Homo sapiens: one gene and its partners. The protein of the gene in region 2 purifies or fractionates together with the protein of the main gene of each other region. This does not show direct contact. Each region holds a gene or a part of one and is shown on either strand. Other genes may lie near its edges.

Region 1 (6,890 bases), on a different chromosome or scaffold from region 2:
GATGTTCATATTAATCTAAAGGCAAGAATTTCTTGGAACTAGTGAGGTAGTTTCATGGAAATCGGATGGTAAAGGACAAATGAAGTTAATGGAGTCATTTAAAAAATAACTAAACTTAAAAAGTATTAAATTACTCAATCATGAACATTTTAGTCTTTAAAAATTTTTTAAACAGTTTTCACAGAAACTATTTTAAAGTCCTATTAAAGGTAAAAACCTCCAAAATAACCACAGACACAATTATTTTATAACACTTGTGGACCCATGGCAAAACGGAAAAGGGGCAGAAGATGAAGAAAGAACCAGGCTTCCTCCTGATTTATTACTTCCTGGATATTTGACTTCGGGCAAACCATTTACCTCTGAAGACCTGAGCTACCAGTCATTACCAGTTTATTAATTCTGAATCCTCATAATGAGAATAATGGCGAATAACAACTAACTTGCTGTGCTGTTGTGAAAATAATTAATTTTTTTTTTGAGACAAAGTCTCACTCTGTCACCCAGGCTGGAGTGCAGTGGAGCCATCTCTGCTCACTGCAACCTACACCTCTCGGGTTCAGAAGCGATTCTCCTGCCTCAGCCTCCCAAGTAGCTGGAATTGCAGGCGCCCGCCACCATGCCTGGCTAATTTTTCTATTTTTAGTAGAGGCAGGGTTTCACCATGTTGGCCAGGCTGGTCTGAAAACTCCTGACCTCAAATGATCCACCCACCTAGGCCTTCCAAAATGCTGGGATTACAGGCATGAGCCATGGCACCCAACAGAGAATAAAATTTATTTATTTATTTATTTATTTATTTATTTATTTATTTATTTATTTATTTTTGAGACAGAGTCTTGCTCTGTCTCAAGACAGAACCAGGCTGGAGTGCAGTGGAGAATAAAATATTTTTTTAAAAAAGATCTTAGCAAATTGTAAACTGTGATACAGGTAAGATATTACCTTTAAAAAAGGTAGGAATTCTAAGAATCCATTTGTATTCTAACACTATACTCTATCCTCACTTTGAATTTTTGTTGTTGTTGTTGTTTATTTTTTATAGAGATGGGGATCTCGCTATGTTGCCCAGGTGGGTCTCGAACTTCCAGCCTCAAGCTATTCTCCTGCCTAGACCTCCCAAAATGCTGGGATGGGATTACAGGCCTGCCATCTCGTTGACCTCTCGCTTTGATTTTTTTCTAGCCTTAATACTGTTTGTTTATAAAACACCTCACTTTCACAGAACAAGTGCATTTTGAAGGCTTTAGGCTCTTTTAAAAACCCAGGTACACAAGGTAGCTTACACAAGGTAAGGGACAGAAAAAGGCAAGCTAGCTATTTTACAGACTAAATTCTAAGTAACATATACCCAAATTGCCAATGTAGCTAGGCAAATGCAGACCCGTTTGTGATCTGGTTTCAGCTTCACGTTGTTTGGTTAAACGTCAATGCATCCATCAGGTAACATTATAACGGGAGCAGACGTTGGTTAAAGCTTAAACAATCAGACAAACTGCTCCCCTTGGGATTCTCTGATTTATTTACTCTAGAATATGCCTGAATGTAGCCTCTAGCTAGAACTTGAGTGACCGATTCTATCCAAAATTCTTTAAACTGTAAAGGACACATTAGTGTACCACTAACAGTACATTTAAAATCTAACAATTCCAAAAAAAACTAAGCAGTGTTAAAGAAACTTCCATTTTCTGTGGTTTTTAAGTTGTCATGTGTGAAGCGATAAACCAACCGGGTGCACAACATCTCATTTAATCCATCCTCACAACCAGCAGGGAGGTGTACCATCGCCTTTTTACAAACAAGTCTGTCTCACCTCTAGCTGAGAGTCTTACAAGTCTCTTGCTATTTCCATCACATTTGTCTAACTCCATTCAACACGCCAGAAAAACTCACTTTATTAATAAATATCCAGGCCTGCACAGCATACCTAAATTTAACCTTCAACATCATTTCAACTGCCCTGTTTCGCCTGAGGTTATCAGTCCGCTTAATAGCGAAAAGAGGTTTTTCGTTTTGGTTTTCTTATGTATTAGAAGTAAATCAAGAAAGAGAAACTAAACTGTAAGAGGGCAGGAACAGACTTTCAACTGCTTTTGCCCCCTGTGGCTAACTTCATAATAACAACATTTAATAGAAAAAGGTTTTGAAACGTGCCCCAGTGGCAACTGGATATTCTGGCTGTCCATCTCTCTCCTGTCATCCACTTTGCAAATTCACCACTCCGGGAACTTTCCTGAGAGTTCAAGGTTCTTAATTCAAAAGTCAAGTCCAAACTTGAGCAAGGACTTACGTCATTTTACAGCGTTAACCTCTCCCCAGTGTCGGTTTCTAGAAGTTTTGACTCACTTTGCGGGGAGGTCTAAAGAATCGGTTTAATGACAACCACTGGCCTTAGGAGAGGGAGCTCCCGGAGAAAGAGCGAGCAAGCTAGGTGCCCGCGGTGCGGCTGCGGCTGGCGCCGGTCCGAGCTCGGGAGCTGCTGCCCAGCGAGCGGGGAAAGCCCGTCCACCTCGGCCAGCGCGCGCGGGAGACAGGACCGAGCCGGGCGACAGGGGCAGCCGCCCGGAGGGGCGCGGGGAGTGGGGCAGGGCCGGGTCGCACCTGAAACCGCGGGGCGGCTCCGGTCCAGCTCGGCGGACGAACTCCGGGAGACCCCCACGTCCCCGGGCGGGAGGGGCAGCTCCTCGTCGCCGGCCTCGCCCTCCTCCCCGGCAGCGTCCAGCAGCCTCACGGCGCTGCCTGGGGCGCCTCTCCGCGGGTGGGCCCAGGCGATCCGCGGTAGCAGCGGCTCCCGCTCCCCATCCTCCTCCTCCTCCGGGCTCCCGCCGTCCGCGGACGCCAACCGGTCGGGCTCGGAGGGATCCTCCATGGACTCCCTCTGCTCCCTCCGCGCTGAGACCAGATCAGAGCAGCCAGGTGCCAGAGACTGGGCTCTGCATGGCGCGGAACGGGAGCGACCGGGTAGAACGGACGCCACCTCACCAGCGCACGGGCACGCTTGGCGCCCGCCCAGCGGTTGTCCCGCCTCGCCGCCGGCCGCGCCCCACCTCGCGCCTCCGCCAGGCACCACCCCCGCGCCTGCGCAGAAGGGTCGTGGCGGCGGCGGCGGCGGCAGCGGGGCACGTGGGAGTGAACAGGGGGCGGGGCTTTTGAGGGGTCAGGTGGGGTGGGGCCGCCACCTGCTTCCGTGAGCGCGGGGAGAAGCTGGGCACAGCTCGCTTTACTCCCAGTGGAGGGCGGGAAGGTGAGTAATTTTCAAAGAGGTGCCCTCCTGCAACCAAAAGCGGCTTCTCCCTGACAGAATTCTCTCTCAGAGTTTACCATAATCTGTAACTATAGATTTAATTGTATGACATTTCTTTCCTCCAGTAGACGTCCAGGAGGGCAGGGACCTTGTCTTTGTTCAGATATTCTTGATAGTGGCAGTTTGTATGTTTTCTTTTTCTGACTAATCTAGCTAGAAGTTTATCAATTTTTAAATCTTTTCAAAATGTCATGTTTTGGTTCCATTGATTTTCTGTTTTCTGGTCCATTGCCTTATTTTGCTCTTTATTGCTCACTTGAGTTTTGATTTCCTCTTCTTTTTCTAGTTGCTTAGAGTAGAAGATGATTGATTCTGGATCTTTCTGCTTTTCCAATGCTAGTATTTTAAGGCTATAAATTGCCCTCTAAGCACTGCTTTAGCTGAATTCTCCTTTTTTTTTTTCTTGGTGGTTGTTATTTTTGAGACAGGGTCTCACTTTGTTATCCAGGCTGGAGTGCAGTGACACAATCATAGCTCACTGCAGTCTCAACCTCCTAAGCTCAAGGGATCTTCTCAGCTTTAAACTGTAGAAGACACAGTAGCTGGAACTGCAGGTGTGCACGACCACATCCTGTTAATTTTTAAATTTAAATTTTTTGTAGAGATGGGATCTCACTGTTGCCCAGATTGGTCTTGAGCTCCTGGTCTCAAGCAGTCGTCCTGCTTCAGCATCCCAAAATTCTGGGATTACAAGCATAAGCCACCTTGCCTGGCCTGCTACTGTGCTTTTGTTTTCCTTCAGCTGAAAATAGTTTTTAATTTCCTTTATGATTTCCTCTTTGACCCTGTAAAGGAAAATAAAAATCTCAGAACCACCCCCCACCCCCAACTTGTTATGTCAAAGGGAGAGTTAAGCCTGGAGACTGAAGTCACTCAACACTACAATGCTTTTCCCAAATGGATAGCTGTTACTTCCCATAGTTGTATTAAAACTTTATATGTTAGCCAGACCCTCCTCAAAATGCAAAAAAAAGCCTTATGCATCTCAGTCTCAGGATGACTGTCCTCAACAAATTAATCATAGTAAATTCTTTACTGGCCCTTAAACCTTTCAAGATGTATATCCTTCCATAAAACAAGGACGTGTCAATTGTATAACTTTAAGTCTGCAACCTAAATCAAACTGGTACAACTAAAGTCTGTTAAATTTCACATGGATAAATTCAGTTACAAGCTTATCTTCCCAGATGCAGAACAAGGATAAGATCAATCATTCCTTCACCTGAGATATCTGTATAATTAACTTCCTTTACTCCATTTTCTTTGAATATTCACCTTATCTTATGCATAGCATAGAGTTACTGGGCACTACCTAAAGTCTAGCAAAAATGTAACCATTTGCTTCACCACCTACAACCCTCTTCCCTGATGCCTTCTCCGCTTTAAAGAAAGAATAGCTGTAATTACAGGTGCCTGCCACCATGCACGGCTAATTTTTGTATTTTTTAGTAGAGATAGGGTTTCACCACATTGGCCAGGCTGGTCTCGAACTCCTGACCTCAGATGATCCACCCGCCTCGGCCTCCCAAAGTGCTGGGATTACAGGTGTGAGGTACTGCACCTGGCCTGTAAATGCCTTTTAATTGGAGTTTGGGGTCCATTTACATTTAATGTAATAATGATGTGGTTGGATTTAGATCTATTATTTTGCAATTTGGGTTTTATTTGCTTTAACCTTTTCGGTTCCTCTGTTCCTCCTTTCCTGCCTTCGTTTGGATTAATTCAATAATTCTGATTATTTCATTTTCATTCCACCATTGACTTTCTGTTATACTTATTTTTTTTCTTTTTTTGAGATGGAGTTTCACTCTTGCTGCCCAGGTAGGAGTGCAGTGGTGCAATCTTGGCTCACTGCAACCTCTGTCTCCTGGGTTCAAGCTATTCTCCTGCCTCAGCCTTCTGAGTAACTGGGACTACAGGCACATGCCACCATGCCCAGCTAATTTTTGTATTTTTAGTAGAGACGAGGTTTCACCATGTTGGCCAAGATGTTCTTGATCTCCTGACCTTGTGATCCACCCACCTGAGCCTCCCAAAGTGCTAGGATTACAGGCATGAGCCACCACGCCTGGCCTCTGTTATACTTCTTTACATTAATTTTTAGTGCTTACACTAGGGTTTTCAATACTCATCCTTAAATTATCTCAGTGTACTAAGAGCCAATATTGTACTATTTGACATAAGAGGTAAGAACTTAGTGTCATTCCATTTATGCCCCATCGTTTATGTTATTGCTGTCATGTATACTAGACCTAAATATTTAAATACAGTGAATAATTTTTGCCTTAATTGCTTTTTTAGAGAAATTACCCACATAGTTACAACTTCCGGTGTTCTTCCTTCCTTTTTGTAGATCAGAGTTTCTATCTAGTATCATTTCCCTTTCCTCTGAAGAATTAAAAACAAATTTTATAATGCAGATTTGCTGATTAATATGGCTTGGCTGTGTCTCCACCAAATCTCATCTTCAATTCCCACGTGTTGTGGGAGGTGGGAGGTGGGAGGTGATTGAGTCATGGGGGCAGATCTTTCCAATACTGTTTTCATGATGGTAAGTGAGTCTCATGAGATCTGATGGTTTGAAAAACAGGAGTTTCCCTGCCCAAGCTCTCCTTGCCCGCTCCCATCCACGTTAGATGTGACTTTCTCCTCTTTGCCTTCCCCCATAATTGCAAGGCCTCCCCAGCCATGTGAAATTGTAAGTCCAGTAAACCTCTTTCTTTTGTAAATTGCCCAGTCTCAGGTATGTCCTCATCTGCAGCATGAAAACAGACTAATACACTGGTGATAAATTTAAGTTTTAATTTATTAGAAATTGTCTTTATTTTACCATCATTTTCAAATGCTATGTCCTCTGGATACAGACTTCTGGGTTGATATTGCTATCCTTACCCATCTAAGTTCAACTGTAAATATGTCATTCTATTGTCCTCTTGCCTTCATTGTTTTTGAATCATAACCCTTCACTTACACACCCGACTTGTGCTATGTCATTTTCTCTAGCTGCCTTTAAGATTTTCTCTGGTTCTTTGGTTCTTTGATTTTCAATAGTTTGACCATGATGTTTTTGGTATGATTTTCTTTACAAATATCTTGCTTAGGTTTTGCTTTACTTCTTGAATCTGTAGATTTATGTTTTCCACAAAATTTGGAGAAATGTCATTCTTTTTTTTTTTAGAAGCAGTTTATTACCTTAAAGCATTTAGCAAACCTAATGTCTGACCTAATTTCAACCAAATGTCTTTATTTTACCAATAATCTTCAAAACTCTTGATTTCCCAAAGCCTACTAAAGTCATGCTGTCACAGGCCATTAGACAGCATGAGCAGGGCAGGAAAGGGCTCTTCTCCCACCCACCAGGAATGTTGGGTGATGGCTCAGCAGTTATCACATTGCCTCTCTAAAAGTCATACATTGGCACCTAGGGTCAGGGAGACGCCATTTCCTGATGGTCCACACCTATTGCACTAAAGTGTTAATTGAATGCAGATGCCAGGGAGATGCAACTTCCCAGGCAAATGCATTAAGAGACAAAACGGCAGAGTATGACCTTTCCGTGGCACTCCATGGGAAAAGGGAAGAAAGC
Region 2 (7,036 bases):
GCATGAATGCACAGAAAGGAGAGGTTGGGGTGATGGAAAGAATTACATATGTACTGTGGCTGGTTACCATGGCAACCCTCCACAGAAATATGATATAGATATATATAATATATATTGTAGATATATATTATACATATATGTACACATGTATACCACGCACCCACTCACACATACACACACGCACTTTGGACCAACATCATTTCCAGGTTCAGGAAATAGAGGATCATAATTTCTGTGACAACTCATTTTTGCAGGTACTCACTGGAGGTCTGAGAACCTTAAAATGCTGTCGCTACATTTTTTTTCCCTTCCAATTCAGAAAGCAAAGTGTTACCATAGTAACAGGACTATGTTAAAGATGTCTATTTTGCATAGCACATAAAAAGTAGGTTTCCTGTTTACTCTTCTTGTTTCCCAGAAGGGAGGGGGTGCGGGGGAGGACAGGAGGAGGGAGCCACAGCTAAATCGTCACCTGAAGCCCCCAGTGTGACCTGCTGGATTCTAGAGAACACTTCAGCCCATAAGGCAAGGGAAAACCCAACGCAGAAATAAACGCCGGAACATCTTGTCATTGTTAAATATATGATGCAGTCACATCGGCTTCCTGCTCTGTGGGGCTCGTACTTCCTAGTCTACGGTTCCGTGAGATGCCTTCGGAGGACTTGGTTATTTTTGCATTTGCTCTCATTATTGTTCTTTTTGGAATGATGTTGTTTTTCCCAGAAGTAGCTGTCCAATTTGTTTTTTTAAGCGCTGAGCATTGGGACCACTTAATTGCCACAAATGAATTTCACATCTTCTGGTGTGTACTGTGTGCAACCTTAAAATATATATTAGTAAAAATCTTTCATTTTATATCCCTTGTGTTCTATATACCTATTATAAATACGTCCTATCTTCCTTCTCCCCCTGGACATCATAATTTACTTCCGTCTTAAGGACTCTAAGAGGTCTGCCGTATGTGCTTCACCTTGACACAGAGCACCGGGCGCTGCAGCCTCCATCAGTACCGACCCTGCAGCCCTGGCACCCGGACAGCACCGCATAAACCAAAGTGTCGTAAGGCTCAATCGGGAGGGGAAGGAGGAACCTGGGGGGAGGGGGATCTGACCTACCTTTTATAGATAAGGATTCTTTAATAACAACGATGATGATGGAATTACAGCCTGTTTGACCTTTGGCTTTTCAACTTTTAGGTCAGATTTGGCTCTCTGCTATTCTCCTAAATGCTTTCCCTGTGTTTAATAAAATGTGATAAGTATAGCAGCTGAGTCTGCTTAAAAAATCATCCAAAGCAGACCGACTCTCCTACAGCTCGGAGCTGTGTATCTTATTGCCAGTACCACAACAGTCCTGCCCGAATATATCATCAGCGGCCTACTTTCTCCCTTCCCTCCAAGCCTGTTCCTTTCCCAACAATACCCGTCTTTGTTCCCCGGAATGAAGAGGGGCTTTTCTTCCTGCACATCGCTATTTGATAACAGCGAGTGCCTCCCCATGCACTGGAATCCACTGTGTGTGCTGTCGTGTCTCCTACTGGCCTCTTCGATCTCAGCAAAACCAAAGTGCTGTGCTACCTAATTGCTTTTTTCTTTTTTCCTTTCCAACTTTCTGTTTCAGAGGCAGCAGCAGTGAGCTGCAATTGCAGCCAGCCCTTTCCCCAGCCCCACTCCCTTCTATGAACTCCTAGCCTTCTTCGCAGACAGCCTAGCATCTGGCTAAAGGGCACCTTGTTAGCAAACACAATTTCTATGAACGGATTACCCATGGACTGAAGCTGTTGTTGCCAGCGGCTGGAGGAGGGGACTCCAGACATGAGTGTTCCATGAGTGATGCAGATGTGGAGTGGAGGTCTCAGGTGAGGTGCTGCAGAGCCCTGGGTAACAGAACGAGTGAGACAGTAAGGACTAAACTCTAGAGATCTTTGCACACCTTAACTAGCCCGAGGTCCGTGTGACAAGTCCGGTATGCACTGCGGGGGAAATGCACCCCAGGCAGAAGCCGGCCCTTCCAGGCGTGGCATCCTGGGGCACCTGCCAGGATGCTCACAGCCCTCTCGTCCACAAACCACTGTCTTCCCTTGGCTTCTGCAGAGGCCTGAGTGACCGCAGCACATGGCTTCGAGGAGGAGACGTGGGACGCGGCACAGCAGTCCGAATGGGCGTCTTCTGCACAGTCTTCCAGCTTCCAGGGAGCGTGTGTGTTCACCAAGGCCGAATGCTACAAGACTAGGTAAGCTGTCCAGCGCGACGGGCTCTTCCGAGGAGGAGTGTCCCTCTCCCCCGGTGCTGTGCTTCAGTCAATTCTCCAGCACGCGGGCTCTCAAACCCTCAAGGGAGGCATCGGGACATTAGGTGTCCTCTGGGAAAGCACAGGTACCACCAGGGTCCCTCTCAGACCTTGTAGTAAATGTTCGCCGGGCTCTGCGGGGGCATCTCCTGGACGATGTACACCGGGTGCCCGTAGTCCCCGCTGACCTTCTCGTAGTGAGGGCAGAAGACGCTGTCCGCAGTCCTTAGCGGGATGATAATGTCACTGGGCTCTGAGCCGTTGTTGTTGCCGCTGCGCTTGGGTGTGGCCAGTGTGCTGAGCGACAGCGTGGTCGTGTGCTGCGGCGAGTGCTTCCTGTGTCTCCTCCGGTACTTCAGCAAGAGGACCACCAGCGTGATGATGATGACGATGAAGATGATGCATCCTGAAGCAATCCCTGCAAATAAGGCCACTTCGGAACCGAGGATGTTGTTCCCCGAATGTCCGGCGCTGTTGCCGTCTGTGCTAGAACCTGCAGACGCGGAGACAGAAAAGGTCAGAGATAGTTACTGCTGTCCCAGTGCAGACGGACTGCTTTTATGACCCTTAAAAATGTGAAAAATAAGCCAGGCTTATTACTAACTAGAAGCTGGACTTTGCCTCGCCAATACCTCGTCTAAGAGCTCAACGCAAAAGGAAATGAGAGGTATCTCTAGGAGGGACTTCCCTACCCTCCCAAGCCACAGGGTTTCCTTTGTATCATTATCCAGCAAGAGCACAGACTGTCGGTGACAGCCAGCCCTTGATCTTGCTTCATCTTCTAACCCGTGTCAGCCAGCCTGGGGCAGCGGCAGGGAAGAAAAAGGGAAGTGGCCAATTCTCCAGGTCAGCGGTGAGCGTTTATGTGGTATTGCTCTTCCGCCTCCTTTGAGAAAGGGAGTTTCATGCAAACCTTCAAAGGGCCTGCCTTCTAAAGAAGAGCCCTGCCTCCTGGCAGAACAGAACAGCTCGGGAACGCGGAAGGAGTGAGGGGGCCTGGGAAAATGTTCAGCTCGTAACTCGTCTGTATTATTTGATTTACACTTAAAATATATTTGGAAGGCAGCAGAAACTCTCACACCGAACAGACTGCCAGCCCAAATGTTAAGCACTAAAAAACTGCCTGGCATCATTATATTATCCATTTATCAGTTTGTCACAAGAATTTGACACATCTTGTCATTGAAAGTTAGAAATAACAACTTCCCTCCTTGACTCTTGGAAAGGGATGGAATATTGCTGCAGACGATAAATTTGCACAACGACCAAGCAAGCACACAACAATCCTAATACAAAACTGCTGATGTCTGCTCAACAGCTACTCTATAAAACCTTCATTAGCATGGTAACAAATACAGAACTATTTGTTCCAAGACTGTTAAGAAAACGAAGGTCAACGACGGACAATTTTATCTGGTATTCTACACTTTTGTCAGGGACCTGTTTAATATTTTCTTTTACATGGAAAATGTGAAACAAAATAACGATAACCACCTGAAAAAATACTATTATGCAATATTTAAAAATGTTACCATTTAAAATTTAGAAGAGGATCAATTAAACCCTCTGTGGCTTAGATATAATTAGATGAGGGATTAGCACATTAATTACATATACATTAACATCAGCTTTAAGCTGGAGTTGACAACCAGCTTGATAAAATGTCAGCCAATGAAACCTTTGGCCTGACAGAGTAGTTCTAATAACTGGCACTTACAGCTCATGAACTCTACTCCTTTGAATATATGACTTTCATTGGAATGAGTTATTTTGTTCTTATTGAGTGTAATTAATAATGACTCACTGACAGCAAAGATTCCTGATCACTGTAACTTCCAGCTAATCCTAACTGGTTAGAAGTCTTTAGACTCTGCCCTACCTTTTAAGATACTACTAAGAATGTGGTACCCACAGACCTCCATACACACAGATCATGCTGTTATACCTGGATTTGGTTTTACAAAGGGACTTGTTGTCGAACTTCTTCCATTTGTACCAGCTTCTAGTTCTGGACGTCTTGTTGGATCTTTATTCCTGGTTGATCCAGCAGAACTTGCATCTATATGAAAAACAAATGATTAATTACGGCACAGACATCTGACAATATCTAGCTTTAGGAGCTGCATATATATTTCAACAGGCATGAATAGCAATGAACATAAGAGTCTTTATGCAAAGTACTGTGAAATACAAGAATATAATTTTTCTTTTAAAACAAAATGGTTATACTAGTTATTTCAGAGGTTTAGAACGTGAGGCCATCTGTGGAAACTATAGGGATTCTTGCATTTGGCAGGCAAAGCATTGCAGATGACATTTCAATTTAACTGAGCAAGTTGATTGACTACTATACCAATTTTTAATTAGAAGAATAATTATTTCTTTCTGCACAATAGGTTATCTATATTGGAAAAGTCACAATGAACAAAACTCTTCTGTAGTCAAGATTCAGAAATGAGCAAAACTGCACAAGCTTTTAGTTTTCATTCTGGATATTTTGATTTTGAACCAAAGTGTTTTGCTTTTTAAAAAGAAATATCTATCTATCTATCTATCTATCTATTATCTATCTATCTATCTATCTATCTATGGCAATAGACATTCTACCTTGCTGATCTTAACTCTTAGATCTCCAATAAAAGCTTAGTACATTGACTTGAGGAAATCTGTCAGTGGCTCAAAGTGCAGAAGGGTTTGCTTTGAAAACTAAAAAGAAGAGCGAATGAAGGTGGGCATCGGCAACATTAGCACCATACTAGCTGGGGGCTACACCAGGTCACAGTGGCGTCATGAAGCAGCAGATGGTCTTTACCTTGTCCAACTTTCATGAGGATCTTCATGGCTCTTGTCTGGCACACCCCTCCCTCCTGGTTATCCAGGCCCTCCAAAGACCCATTTGATGTAGCTGATTAAAAATAAAATGGACAAAACAAAAAAATAAAGAAAAATCAGGAAATCAATAAGCCAAGTTTACATGAACATGAAATGTCTGAAAACAATTTGAAAAATAAGAATTCACTCTTAGTCACAAGTTTTCTGAAAGTATGGGGATGCTGAAAGCCAAAAAGAAAAAGAAAAAGAAATAAAGAGAAATGGATATCGGAAACACTGCCGCACGTATGCTATCTGACTCCAAATTTATTTAGGCACTTTCTCCTTCCTTCACAAATGACTGATTTAATGTTAGTCTATAAATAAAAGGGATGGCATCCTTCAAAAAGTCTATGGACTCTTTTGGGGCCAAACTCAGAAGAGCAAAATAGTTAATGCAGCCATTTCCAAACGTGGTAATCATCCCCCCACACCTGCTTCCTCCACTGCAGATTTCCTGCTTCAAGAACAATTAGCTTGACGCTCTGTTTGTCAAGCATCCAAGTTCTGTAAACACTAGACCAGGAGCCTCCCACAACCCTTGTCTTCTTTTTTCAGCCTTATGCATGCTTAAGAAGTATACCAGAAATCAGGTCTTCAAAATCTCCCCTTTTTCCTCCATCGTTTTGTAAATCAGAAGAACATACGTGTTATTACTGCCAATGTCAACCTTAGTCAACCTCTTCAACCAAACTACCTGTTGCGGGAAAACTCTGGCTGAATAGAGGGTTCACACACATGCCCACCACTCATTCTGGGTCCTGTGGCAGCCCTGGAGAGAAAGTGGGGACTTTTACCAGCCACTTGCTGGTGTTCACCAACTGAATTCCCTCTCCACCTCAGCAGTGAGGAGTGGAAGGAAGGACAGAATCATTTTACCATTTTCAGCATTTTTTTTTTCAACAGCCTATGCTCTATTTAAACACATCCTTGTTCTGTCTCTTTAGACCAGCGAGGTCTCTGAATAGCTTTGTAACTCAAGCTGTAAAGAGATAGGCTGCCAGGTACTTTAATGAGAAACAGGCTTTGAATTACAGTTCAAGTTCCAGGAGAGAAAAGAAGGTGGAGAGTGCTAGACATTTTCATTCCCCTAAAGTTCAAGGGGCAAGGAACAAAAGTGTTTCATATACATTTCTGCAATTTAAATCCATTTTCTACCTGATTATCAAAGTCTTGGCTTGTAACACTGTACTTTGCAAGGGACTGAAAAAAGGATTGATTTTCTGGTAAAAATAAATCCCAAAGACATTCTTCTAATGGGATTGTTTGTTTTCCAAACAGTAGGTCAGCAAACAAGTTCTATATGCATTTATGGTAGAAATATGCATTCCACTGAAATTATATTAACTACAAAAATAAGGCACTTATTTACTTGTCTTTGTGGTCTTGAATTAACTTTACTTTCACTGTTTTCCTCAAAACAAAGACTGCCTCTTCTGTGCATACATATCACTGTGCTTCTCTGAGTGCTTGCTTAAACTTTACAGTCTCACAATTGCATCTCATTCTTCTGTAACTGTGGATAAATTTTTCCCGGGAAACTGGGCAATAATTGCCATAATAATACTTGTCTTGGAAGGGTAGTAAGAAGCAGACAGTATCTGTTTGTAGATACAAACATTGTAGACCATTAAGAAACTATTCAGCAGACAGCTTAAAAAAAAAAAAACCTAAAAATTTTGTACACTTCTGTGAATCTAAAAAAAATCTTTTTAATTATTTAATGGGGCTATTAAAATTTTTTTTTATTATACTTTAAGTTCTAGGGTACATGTGCACAACGTGCAGGTTTGTTACATATGTATACGTGTGCCATGTTGGTGGGCTGCGCCTGTTAACTCGTCATTTACATTAGGTATATCTCCTAATGCTATCC
Region 3 (7,036 bases), on a different chromosome or scaffold from region 2:
ACTGCATGCAGAGCCAAGCTCACAGGCTAAGGTCACAGAAGGCAGAACTCGGCTGGGTGCGGTGGCTCACACCTGTAATCCCAGCACTTTGGGAGGCCGAGGTGGGCAGATCATGAGGTCAGGAGTTCGAGACCAGCCTGGCCAACATGGTGAAACCCCGTCTCTACTAAAAATACAAAAAATAAGCTGGGTGTGGTGGCATGTGCCTGTAATCGCAGGTACTCGGGAGGCTGAGGCAGGAGAATCTCTTGAACCTTGGAGGCAGAGGTTGCAGTGAGCCGAGATTGCGCCATTGCACTCCAGCCTGGGCAACAGGGCAAGACTCCATCTCAAAAAAAAAAGAAGCCGGGCGCAGTGGCTCACGCCTGTAATCCCAGCACTTTGGGCGGCCAAGGTGGGTGGATCATGAGGTCAGGAGATCGAGACCATCCTCGCTAACACAGTGAAACCCCGTCTCTACTAAAAAAATACAAAAATTAGCCAGGTGTGGTGGTGCTCGCTTGTAGTCCCAGCTACTTGGGCTGCTGAGGCAAGAGAATCGCTTGAACCCAGTAGGTGGAGGCTGCAGTGAGCCGAGACTGCACCACTGCATTGCATCCTGGGCGGCACAGCAAGACTCCGTCTCAAAAAAAAAAACAAACCAAAAAAAAAACAGAAGGCAGAACTCAGTCTCCTCTCCCATCCCTGACCACAGGCTCTCCCTTGGGCCAGGTGCAGGCTGGGGCTACGAGCCTCTAGGACTAGGAAGAAAGGGCCAGTGTGCCCAGCTGTCCCCTGGAATGAGGTCTGGGGTGGTGGAACCAGGGCATCCGCAGGTGAGGAGATTTCCTGGGACATGCCATGTGCCCATCATCCTATTGGCCAGGGTGGGTAAACAAGGCTGGAGATATGGATCCCAATGGGCGGCCCCCACCTTCCTTGCAGAGTCCAAAGTCTGCGATCTTCAGGAATCCCTGGGCATCCAGCAGAAGGTTATCCAACTTCAGGTCCCTGAGGGCAAGGGTGCAGATCAAAGGGACTGAGTGGGGCTTAGACCCAGGGAACAGTAACGGCCCCTGGAGCAGCCCAGGCAGGCGGAGGCAGCATCTGTCCTTACCCACTCCACCCCCACCCCCACCCCTACCCCCGTGCATCCCTGGGACAAAAGTCACCTGTAAATGATCTTCTTCTCGTGTAAGAACTGCAGCCCCAGGACAACACAAGCCACGTAGAAGCTGCAGGGGTGGTTATGGGAGAACTCAGGCCCAAGACACACACCAGGGAGGCAGGGCAGGGAGGCACCAGGATGGCCATAGCGGGGGGATCCCGGATGTCCCGGCCAGAGTCAGAGATGAGTGAGACTGGGACAAGCATCATGCTGAGGGTGGGGGTGCTCCAATAGTCCCAAGGTCGCCCCAAGGTTGCGTGCATTTCCAGCTCACCCTTCATGGGCCCTTAAATGGTGCCAGGGACCAAGTGTTGGTCCCTGCAGTGGATATTCATCATGCCTATTTTTTTTTTTTTTGAGACGGAGTCTCACTCTGTCACCCAGGCTGCAGTGCAGCGGTGCGATCTCGGCTCACTGCAACCTCCACCTCCTGGGTTCAAGCAATTCTCCTGCCTCAGCCTCCCAAGTAGCTGAGACTACAGGCACGCGCCACCACGCCCAGCTAATTTTTTTTTTTTTTTTTTTTTTTTAGTTTTTATAGAGATAGGGTTTCACCATGTTGGCCAGGATGGTCTTGATCTCTTGACCTCATGATCCACACGCCTCAGCCTCCCAAAGTGTGGGGATTACAGGCATGAACCAACGTGCCCGGCCTTTTTTTTTTTTTTTTTAGATGGAGTCTCACTCTGTCGCCAGACCGAAGTGGCGGGATCTCGGCTCACTCCAACCTCCGCCTCCTGGGTTCAAGCGATTCTCCTGCCTTAGCCTCTCAAGTAGCTAGGATTACAGGCGTGTGCCACCATGCCTAGCTAATTTTTGTATTTTTAGTAGAGACAAGATTTTACCATGTTGGCCAGGTCACGAACTCCTGACCTCAGGTGATCCACCCGCCTCAGCCTCCAAAGTGCTGGGATTACAGGTGCCCGGCCAATCATGCCTATTTTTCAAATAAAGATCTGAGACTCACCAGGTGTGGTGGCTCACGCCTGTAATCTCAGCACTTTGGAAGGCCGAGGTGGGCGGATCACTTGAGGTCAGGAGTTAGAGACCAACCTGACCAACATGGAGAAACCTCGTCTCTACTAAAAATACAAAATTAGACAGGAGTGGTGGTGCATGCCTGTAATCCCAGCTACTCAGGAGGCTGAGGCAGGAGAATGGCTTGAACCAGGGAGGCGGAGGTTGTGGTGAGCCGAGATCATGCCATTGCACTCCAGCCTGGGCAATAAGAGCCAGACTCTGTCTCACAAAAAAAAAAAAAAAAAAAAAAAAAAGAAACCTAATGCACAGCTTCATAAGCTGATACCCAGGATCACAAATGCTGTCAGTTGGTGCCAGGATGTAAACCAAGGCCTCTGACTCCTGCTCCCCTGCTGTTGGGCACTTGGAGAAAGCAGTATGTAGAGAGTGGGTGTAGGGAACCAGGCAAAGTTTGCTGGAAGAGGCAGGCAGGAGGGATGGAACCCACCGGGCCTGGGGCTCGGGGAAGACATCCTCGTGGATCTGCATCATGAGGTCACCACCAGGCACAAACTCAGTCACAAAGCAGGCATGGCTGGAGGTCTGGAAGCAGGCAAGGAGGGAGAGCAGGAAAGGGTGCCCTGTGCAGCCCACAGCCTCCAGGATCCGCTTCTCGCAGTACAGGCTACAGGAGAGAGCAAGAGTATTAGAGGGAAGGAAAACTTTCCCTGGGCTGTGCCCTGTGCCCTGCACAACACCCCTGGCTCACTGGGCCCTCAGCCAAAGTGCCAGGCAAGTAGACTGATGGTTTCTTTTCATTTTTTTTTTTTTTTTGAGACACAGTCTTGCTCTGTCGCCTGGGCTGGAGTGCTGTGGTGTGATCTCAGCTCATTGCAACCTCTGCCTCCCGGGTTCAAGAGATTTTTGTGCCTCAGCCTCCCGAGTAGCTGGGATTATAGGAGTGCGCCACCACGCCCAGCTAATTTTTGTATTTTTAGTAGACGCAGGGTTTCGCTGTGTTGCCCAGGCTGGTCTCGAACTCTTGGCCTCAAGTTATCCACCTGCTTCGGCCTTCCAGAATGCTGGGATTACAAGTGTGAGCCAGTGCGCCCAGCCTTTTTTTTTTTTTTTTTTGAGACAGGGTCTCACTTTCTTGCCCAGGCTGGAGTGATGTGGTGCGATCTCGGCTCACTGCAGCCTCCGCCACTGAGGTTCAAGTGATCCTCCCACCACAGCTTCACGAGTAGCTGGGTGTGCACCACCACGCCCAGCTAATTTTTGTATTTTTTGTAGAGGCGGGTTTCACCATGTTGTCCAGGCTGGCCTCGAACTCCTGGGCTCAAGCAATCCTCCCACCTTGGCCTCCTGAAGTGCTGGGATTACAGGCATGAGCCACTGTGCCCAGCCTCCCCCTCCTTTTTTTTTTTTTAATTAGTTTTTTTAGATGAGGTCTCATTCTGTTGCCCAGGCTGGAGATCTCTGCTAACTATAACCTCTACCTCCTGGGCTTAAGCAATCCTCTCACCTCACCCTCCCAAGTAGCTGGGACTAAAGGCACATGCCACCATGTCTGGCTATTTTTTATAGATGGGGTTTCACCATGTGATTCAGATTGGTCTTGAACTCCTGGACTCAAGTGATCCGCCTGCCTTGGCCTCCCAAAGTGCTGGGGTTACATGCATGAGTTACCACGCCTGGCCATAGAGTGATGGTTTCTATATGTCAGGGGCTCACAAGGAGCTCTGAACGTGCACAGCCACCAATGCCCCCATTTTACAGTAGAGCAAACTGACAGAGAGAAGAGGGGACCTGCCCAAGGAAACACAGTTAACAACTGCAGGTGCCAAAAGAGAATGCAGGCTGGCTGGCCCCACGGGGTCACCTCTCCAAAGCCCCAGGAACCTTCAACTGCCCTCTGGATGCCACAGCCCAGGCCAGCCATCCTGGGTGCCCTGCGGCACCCCCACACACCTCTCTATCTCGTCCCGGCTGAGCACCTCCTGCTTCTTCAGTGCTTTGATGGCGTAGTATTTCCCTGTCCCCTTGAACTGGACCAGGAGGACCTGGGGCCAGAGAGAGGTTGTGCTCCAGGTGGGCCAGACCAGGGAGCCTTTACCGCCCCCACAGATCAGGTCCTCCCGGCTCATGTGATGAGGCCCCCAATCCCGTCCCATACCACCCTCTTCAGCCCACTACCTTCCCAAAGTGTCCCCGGCCCAGCACAGCTAAGCAGCGGAAGTCCTGAAGCCGAGGGGGTTTCCTGCAAAGGAAGAGAGGGTATATGAAGTCCCCTAGGGCACTGGCTGGGCCCCTACCCAGAGCCACTCCAAGCCTCCCATGCCCAGTCCTGGGCTGTCCCGACCTATGGGCTCGAAAAAGCCCTGCAGTAAGGACTCCTAGAAGCCGGCATAGAGCTGGAGCTCAATAATGTGGGTTTAGTAAATCAGACCCCGAGAGCCAGTCAGCGCACCCGCCAGGGAGCCAGGGAGTAATGTATGAATGGATACACAAATGTTCAAGCAAGCAGACGAACGTCTCAAACATGAAGGTGCGCAGGATGGGGTACCTGGTGGGGGAGGCTGGTGGAGATGGCCCACGTCGAGTCCTAGGCTCCATATGGGGACGTTTGGTGCGCTGTGAGTATAGAGGAGCTCAGGGCAGGGCTGGGCTTCCTTCTCTCTTTCCCTTCAGGCCTGCCACCCCACAGCTGGGTGGCCCTGCCAGCCCCAGCCGGCCCTAGGAGCCACTAGTCCCTCCAGCCCCTCACCGGAGTCTCCTCGGATGTTGGCTCCTGGGGGAGGTAGAGGCGTGGGGGCTTGGGTGGGGGTGTCATCTCTTCACCCAAGGGGGTCTTCTTGGGCAGGAAATTACTGTAGGGAGAAAGTAGACACAGTGCCCAGCACAGGCAGACGCAAGAGCTGGCAGGATGGACACACCAACCCAAAGTGAGATGGACAGAGGGTTAGCGGGCTGAGCAATGCAGACAGACAGACAGATACCGCCTGGATCTGGAGTCAGGAAGCCGCCACAGAGGAGCATGCAGTCTAGGGCAAGGGAGCTCCTCACCTGGGAGTGGCAGGGTCAGAGGCCTCTCGCAGTGTTGTTGGGGTCCGAGGGCATCCTTTAGGGGGGCTGATTGTGCTCGGGGAGCTGCAGGGGGGCAGCAGGTTCATGACGAGGCGCCCCCAGGCCGCCATGCCGAGGTTCATCTGCGAAGCCCTCAGGAAGTCCTGGCCTGGGAGAAAAGGGGGAGCTTAGTCCCGGGACCCCAGCCCTGCTCCCTCACACATAGCCCCCATTCCCTCCACACCTCTGCGTTTAGAGAAGATGCGTTCCTGCCTCTGCAGCCGGGGCCGCCTCTCAATGACAGGATCGCAGAAGGTCACCTGCAGGGGTAGGGGCAGGGTTGTGGACCAGTCGCCTCCCATCTCATCTGCCATGGCACCTCCTCTGCCCCTGGGATTACAGCCCAAGCCCCCAGGGTCAACAGATGCAAGAGCCAGAAAGACCCAGAGAAACAGATTCAATGTCCTCATTGATACTAGTGGAGAAACAGAGGCCCAGGGAGGAGAGGCACTTTTCCAGGGTCACACCTGAGGCAGGGCAGTCAGGACAAGGACCCAGGCCTCCAGATGCAGCCCTGAGAGAGCGGCTAGGAGCCCTTATTCCTGGAGCCCTCCTCTCTGGTCGTCAGTCTCTGCACCTACACGCAGTGCATCGGTCTTGAAGGCCTTCCTGGCCCTGACGCCCCAGGGTCCCACCAAGTCAGAGGGCGGAGGTGGTGAGCACCTGGGCAAAAAGCAGTCCCTGCGGTACCAGGCTGAGGGACAGTTGGTGACAGGCATTGTCCAGGAAGTCCTCAAGTCTCAGGAAGGCCACGCCACATAGCTGCCGCCAGTCCCGCCAGTGTACCCCAATCTCCAGCTCACGGGCCTGTATTGGGGAGGCCAGGCTGAAGGGTGGGGTGCAGAACGAGCCCCGACCTGGGCAGCCTTCCACCCCGCAGCCCAAGGTCACCCCTGACCACACAAAGGCCAGCCTTACTCGCTCCAGTGGGATGACAAAGGTCTGGTCCCAGGACTGTTCGGCCACCTGCCCCCAGCCCGTCTGCCCCACAACACGGTTGTCCACCTTTAGCACAGCCAGCACCTCGCCTGCAGGGCCAGAGCCGGGACTCAGGGCAGGCCTGAAGCAGGGGTCTCCTGCTCCCCCTGAAGCTCCTTCCCTACTCACTGGCAAGCTCGCCTCGGCCACGCTGGTGCTTGGCCTTGGTCCGAAGCCAGCCCTCGGAGGGGCTGCTGGCCAGTGCGGCCGCTGGGGAGCGCCCAGGCACGGCTGTCAGCAACTGTTCACAGCCCAGGAGGCGGACCTGCAGTGTCCCTGTGGGGAGAGTGAGCGGGGGGCGTTGTCAGATGCCATCTTCCCACTGCTACCACCAAGGTGTCCTGGGACCCCAGGAAGGCCACCCTCTCCAGGAGGTGGCTGAACCCAGACCGTACCCACCTGAGGCCAGGGCAGTTACCTGAGGAACCTCACTCAGTGTGGCGGCCTAGAGTGCCTAGACTGGAGCCTGCTGACTGTCCTGCAGCTCCCAAGCACCATGAGCCCCCCAAAGGGTACCCTTGGACCCCGATGACACCCTAGGAGGCCTCCGACCTGGACACTCCCAGGTGAGGAGCCACGTTGTCCCAGAATGCACACTTCTCTGTGGCAGCCACCTCTTTCCAGGGCAGAGCAACTGGCTCTCCCCTCCACATGCTGGAGCGGCAGGGACATAGGCTCAGACCTCAGACCTTAGCCAGGCTGCACAGAGCCACAGCACATGACGAGATGCTGCCTAGAAGTGGGGCCTAGAGAGCACTGTGGCAAGGATAAGAGCTTGGGACAGGGAGCAGGAAGCCTGGCTTCCTGTCCGGACCCACCTGCTCC
Region 4 (3,429 bases), on a different chromosome or scaffold from region 2:
TAAGATCAGGCCTGGCACAGTGGCTCACACCTGTAATCCTAGCACTTTGGGAGGCTGAGGTGGGCAGATCACTTGAGGTTAGGAGTATGAGACCAGCCTGGCCAACATGGTGAAACCCCATCTTTACTAAAAATACAAAAATTGGCTGGGCATGGTGGCGGGTGCCTGTAATGCCAGCTATTCAGAGGCTGAGGCAGGAGAATCACTTGAACCCGGGAGGCGGAGGTTGCAGTGGGCAGAGAACACACCACTGCACTCCAGCCTGGGAGACAGAGCGAGACTCCATTTCAAAAAAAAAAAAAAAAGAAAAGAAAAGAAAAGAAAAGCTGTAAGATCAGCTAATTATACTGCTTACCATTTGGTTAATTTCACATTTCATTCAATGTAGGTTAACTTACTGGATGTTTTTCTCTTAAAAAAAAAATCAGAAATATCTGATAACCCCAATATTCCATCCATTCTTTCTAAACGCAAGCTAGTGTGACTGTCTCCAAGAAACATCTGGCTGCTGAGACAAAAGCAGATACTTGTAAATACTTGTAAATTTCATATTTATTGTAACAAAAATTATGACATGTCCATTTGTGCATTCTGCTTGAGTATAACTCTGGGTATGTAAATGGCCTAATGGGGCACTATACAACCATGCTGATTGTGGCAGCAGTAAGGAACACAGTTAAAAGTGTCTGTCAAAGTGGGAAGGCTGGGACAGGGGAGGAAAATGGGTTCAGGGCCCTTGGGTGCAGGTTCTTGTCCAGTGGCCTAAGATCCATTTCCTCCGGACAGAAACACTGCAGCTGCTCAGCCTCCTCATTCAGTGAAGTGAGGGTGAGTTGTGAGGCAGGCAGGCTCCTCAGAGGGGAGGGGGAGGGGAAACGTCAGTTACTTGGGCTGTGTCCTTACGCCAAGACTACAAAACATCGTAAGCCTCACTATACAACACTGAGCTATTTACAATGGAAATTCTCAATCAGCTGTTCTCTCAGAGAAAATTAGTGAATCCCAGTGACTTAAGTCACCTGACAGAGTAAAGCAACTCCTAGGAGTTAGTCTCCATATTCTACAAATGTCTATTATTTTCAAGACAAAAACAAAACAAAACAAAACAAAACAAAACAAAAGCCTTTTCCCCCCAAAGAAATACAGAATTACAATATTATTAAATCATTTAGCAACGGCAGCCTGCCCTGCCTTCCAAACAAACAACAAAAAGCCATTTTAAAAAATATTACATTATCATTAACTGTTTCTCTGTAATATATTAAACCTTTTGTTCTTTGTCTTTACATATCTGATATGTTAGGGGGAGAAGTTAACAAATGTAAATCATATTGGTAAAGCATCACTAGAAGAAAGTGGTGATTACTTAAAAAAATAACCCAAAGAAAGAGAACCTACAGATTAGCTGCGATGACAGGTTGGGAACAGTGTCTGGGGGAAGGATGTGGAGTAAAACCCCTGGTTTAATGTGAGCCTGGGAGACTCTTGCAACTCAGTCTTTTGTGGTTAGTTTATTTGTTAAACAGCTCGGCTGGGTCATAGTGGCGTGTCGTAATAATCTGGCAGCTGGTCCAGCTGGTAGTGCCGCGGCAGCTGCGGCTGGAGCTGAGGGGGTGGTGGCGGCTGCTGCTGCTGCTGTTGCTCCTGGTGATGCTTCATGATTTCTTTGACCTCCTCTTCCAGCTCCGGGGGTATGATAAACTGATCATCAGGATCCGGCTGAGCCGGGGCAGCAAAATAGCCTCCAGGCTTTCGAAGAGGTGCGTCTGTAGCCACCTCTATCACATTGTGGCTCCTTTCCTGGGGCGCAACAGAGCCATTGGCCCTCCGGCGCCCAATGGTCCCAACGGCAGAGAAGTCTGCCTTCCTGGGCAGACCTGGCTCATCCTCGTTGGCGCTGATGACAATGCCCTCATCACTGGCCTCTGCTGGCACCTGAAGCAGGTGCTGCTGTTTCTCCTTCTCCTTGGCCCGGCTGCAGTGGATGTCCACCTCCACCTCCACCCGGCTGCCGTTGGTGAAGACGCCCTCGATGGGCTCCTCATCGTCACTGTCAAGGCCGTTGTCGGAGAAGGCGCTAGAGAACGTGGCGCTGGATAGCTGGCGCTGGAAGGAGTTGGACAGACAGATGGGGTGGAGCATGCAGCGCTGCTCACTGGGGTAGGCAGGGCTGTTCTCGCTTAGGGCTCCGGGCGGGGGCTCATCGGAGGCTGTTGACCCCACCTCGCTGCTCATCTCAGAAGTGGAGAGCTCACTGCTAATCTCGGAAGCCATGCCGCTGCTGGAGGACGGCACGCCCAGCCCATCTGAGGGCCGATCCTTGATCACCATGTTCACTGAGGGAGGAAAGATGCCAGGACTGGGTGGTGGCACAGCCCCACCGGCGCTGAGCTCGCAGCAGCAGAAGCTGTCCTCAGTGACACTGAGCTGCACCACCACAGCGCTGATGCTGTCGTGGCAGCCGTAGCTCTGGGCCAGGGTACACAGCTTCTTGGCAGCAGCCAGGGCATCGGGCACGTTGCGCACGGCTTCCACGGCCTCCTCGACGGACAGGCTGTCCCACAACCCCTTACTGCCTAGGATGAAGAACTCATCCTGGGGAGTCAGGAGCACGGACTGCACGTGGGGGCGAGGCACCACACTGGGATGGAGGAAGGTGTAGCCCAGGATGCGCGTGGACTCAGTCACTCCGTTCACCTTGCCATCCTGGAAGAACAAGGGTTTGCAGACAGACAGTTAATACAGAGCACCTGCGGCAACTGTGCAGGTTCCCTGCGGGTCCCTCGACTGTCTCGACTGTAGGACCACAGAGAAGTGCTGTGTGGCCCACAGAGGAAAGAAGGGCTCACTCTGTAGTGAGTAGTTAATGTGCACCTGTCATCAGAAACCCCAGGTAGTAGGCCTGGGCAGGTAAGGAGCAGTAGGGACAAAAGGAAAAGATTTCGGTTATGTGTGTTACTGGGACCCCATTCACACTAGGTCACAAGTCCTGCTGTTTATCTAAAGCAAGCCATCATCTAGCCTTACACAGCAAGCATAGCTGGCTAGCTCCTCCTGTAAACATGGGTTTACATCTTCCCTCCCTTGGTGAACATGGTGATCAAGGATCGGCCCTCAGACGGGCTGGGTGTAGGAAGACTCTGAGGTAGCAAGAGACTTTCTGATAGAAGCCAGTCCTGAGCAAAGACACATGACGCAGGCATATATCAAGACAATGCTCCTAAATCTTCCATTGCTCTCCATGATCACAAGAGGCAGTAGTGTCTAAAGGTCCAGAGAGGACTTGAAAGTACTTAAGCGGTGGAGAAAACCTTGGTTTGACTAGGTGGGTAAGAATGCTCATGTCAGGAGAACAGATGCTAAAGAAGAAATGCCAATTCTTACAACTTCCTTGAACTTGATTTCCTGTTGACCAATGGAGAAGGCAAG

Evidence for each region.
Region 1: the proteins of EFNB2 (region 2) and PI4K2B purify together in Homo sapiens (affinity purification with mass spectrometry; 3 studies listed by BioGRID and IntAct, with this or other methods). This does not show direct contact.
Region 3: the proteins of EFNB2 (region 2) and PKN3 purify together in Homo sapiens (affinity purification with mass spectrometry; 3 studies listed by BioGRID and IntAct, with this or other methods). This does not show direct contact.
Region 4: the proteins of EFNB2 (region 2) and PHLPP1 purify together in Homo sapiens (affinity purification with mass spectrometry; 3 studies listed by BioGRID and IntAct, with this or other methods). This does not show direct contact.

What each region holds. Positions count from the first base shown.
Region 1 is NC_000004.12:25,230,143-25,237,032, reverse strand, and holds the start of PI4K2B (phosphatidylinositol 4-kinase type 2-beta), read right to left. Parts: upstream 3,001-6,890; 5' UTR 2,870-3,000; coding exon 2,602-2,869; intron 2,470-2,601; exon of another isoform or gene 2,291-2,469; intron 1-2,290. UniProt on the Homo sapiens protein: Together with PI4K2A and the type III PI4Ks (PIK4CA and PIK4CB) it contributes to the overall PI4-kinase activity of the cell. This contribution may be especially significant in plasma membrane, endosomal and Golgi compartments.
Region 2 is NC_000013.11:106,490,647-106,497,682, forward strand, and holds part of EFNB2 (ephrin-B2 isoform 1 precursor), read right to left. Parts: intron 5,195-7,036; coding exon 5,102-5,194; intron 4,349-5,101; coding exon 4,235-4,348; intron 2,783-4,234; coding exon 2,394-2,782; 3' UTR 1-2,393. UniProt on the Homo sapiens protein: Cell surface transmembrane ligand for Eph receptors, a family of receptor tyrosine kinases which are crucial for migration, repulsion and adhesion during neuronal, vascular and epithelial development.
Region 3 is NC_000009.12:128,712,503-128,719,538, reverse strand, and holds part of PKN3 (serine/threonine-protein kinase N3), read right to left. Parts: intron 6,488-7,036; coding exon 6,341-6,487; intron 6,262-6,340; coding exon 6,152-6,261; intron 6,041-6,151; coding exon 5,897-6,040; intron 5,494-5,896; coding exon 5,418-5,493; intron 5,343-5,417; coding exon 5,174-5,342; intron 4,978-5,173; coding exon 4,875-4,977; intron 4,742-4,874; coding exon 4,674-4,741; intron 4,368-4,673; coding exon 4,304-4,367; intron 4,171-4,303; coding exon 4,079-4,170; intron 2,793-4,078; coding exon 2,616-2,792; intron 1,215-2,615; coding exon 1,152-1,214; intron 991-1,151; coding exon 914-990; intron 1-913.
Region 4 is NC_000018.10:62,977,539-62,980,967, reverse strand, and holds the end of PHLPP1 (PH domain leucine-rich repeat-containing protein phosphatase 1), read right to left. Parts: intron 2,707-3,429; coding exon 1,537-2,706; 3' UTR 535-1,536; downstream 1-534. UniProt on the Homo sapiens protein: Protein phosphatase involved in regulation of Akt and PKC signaling.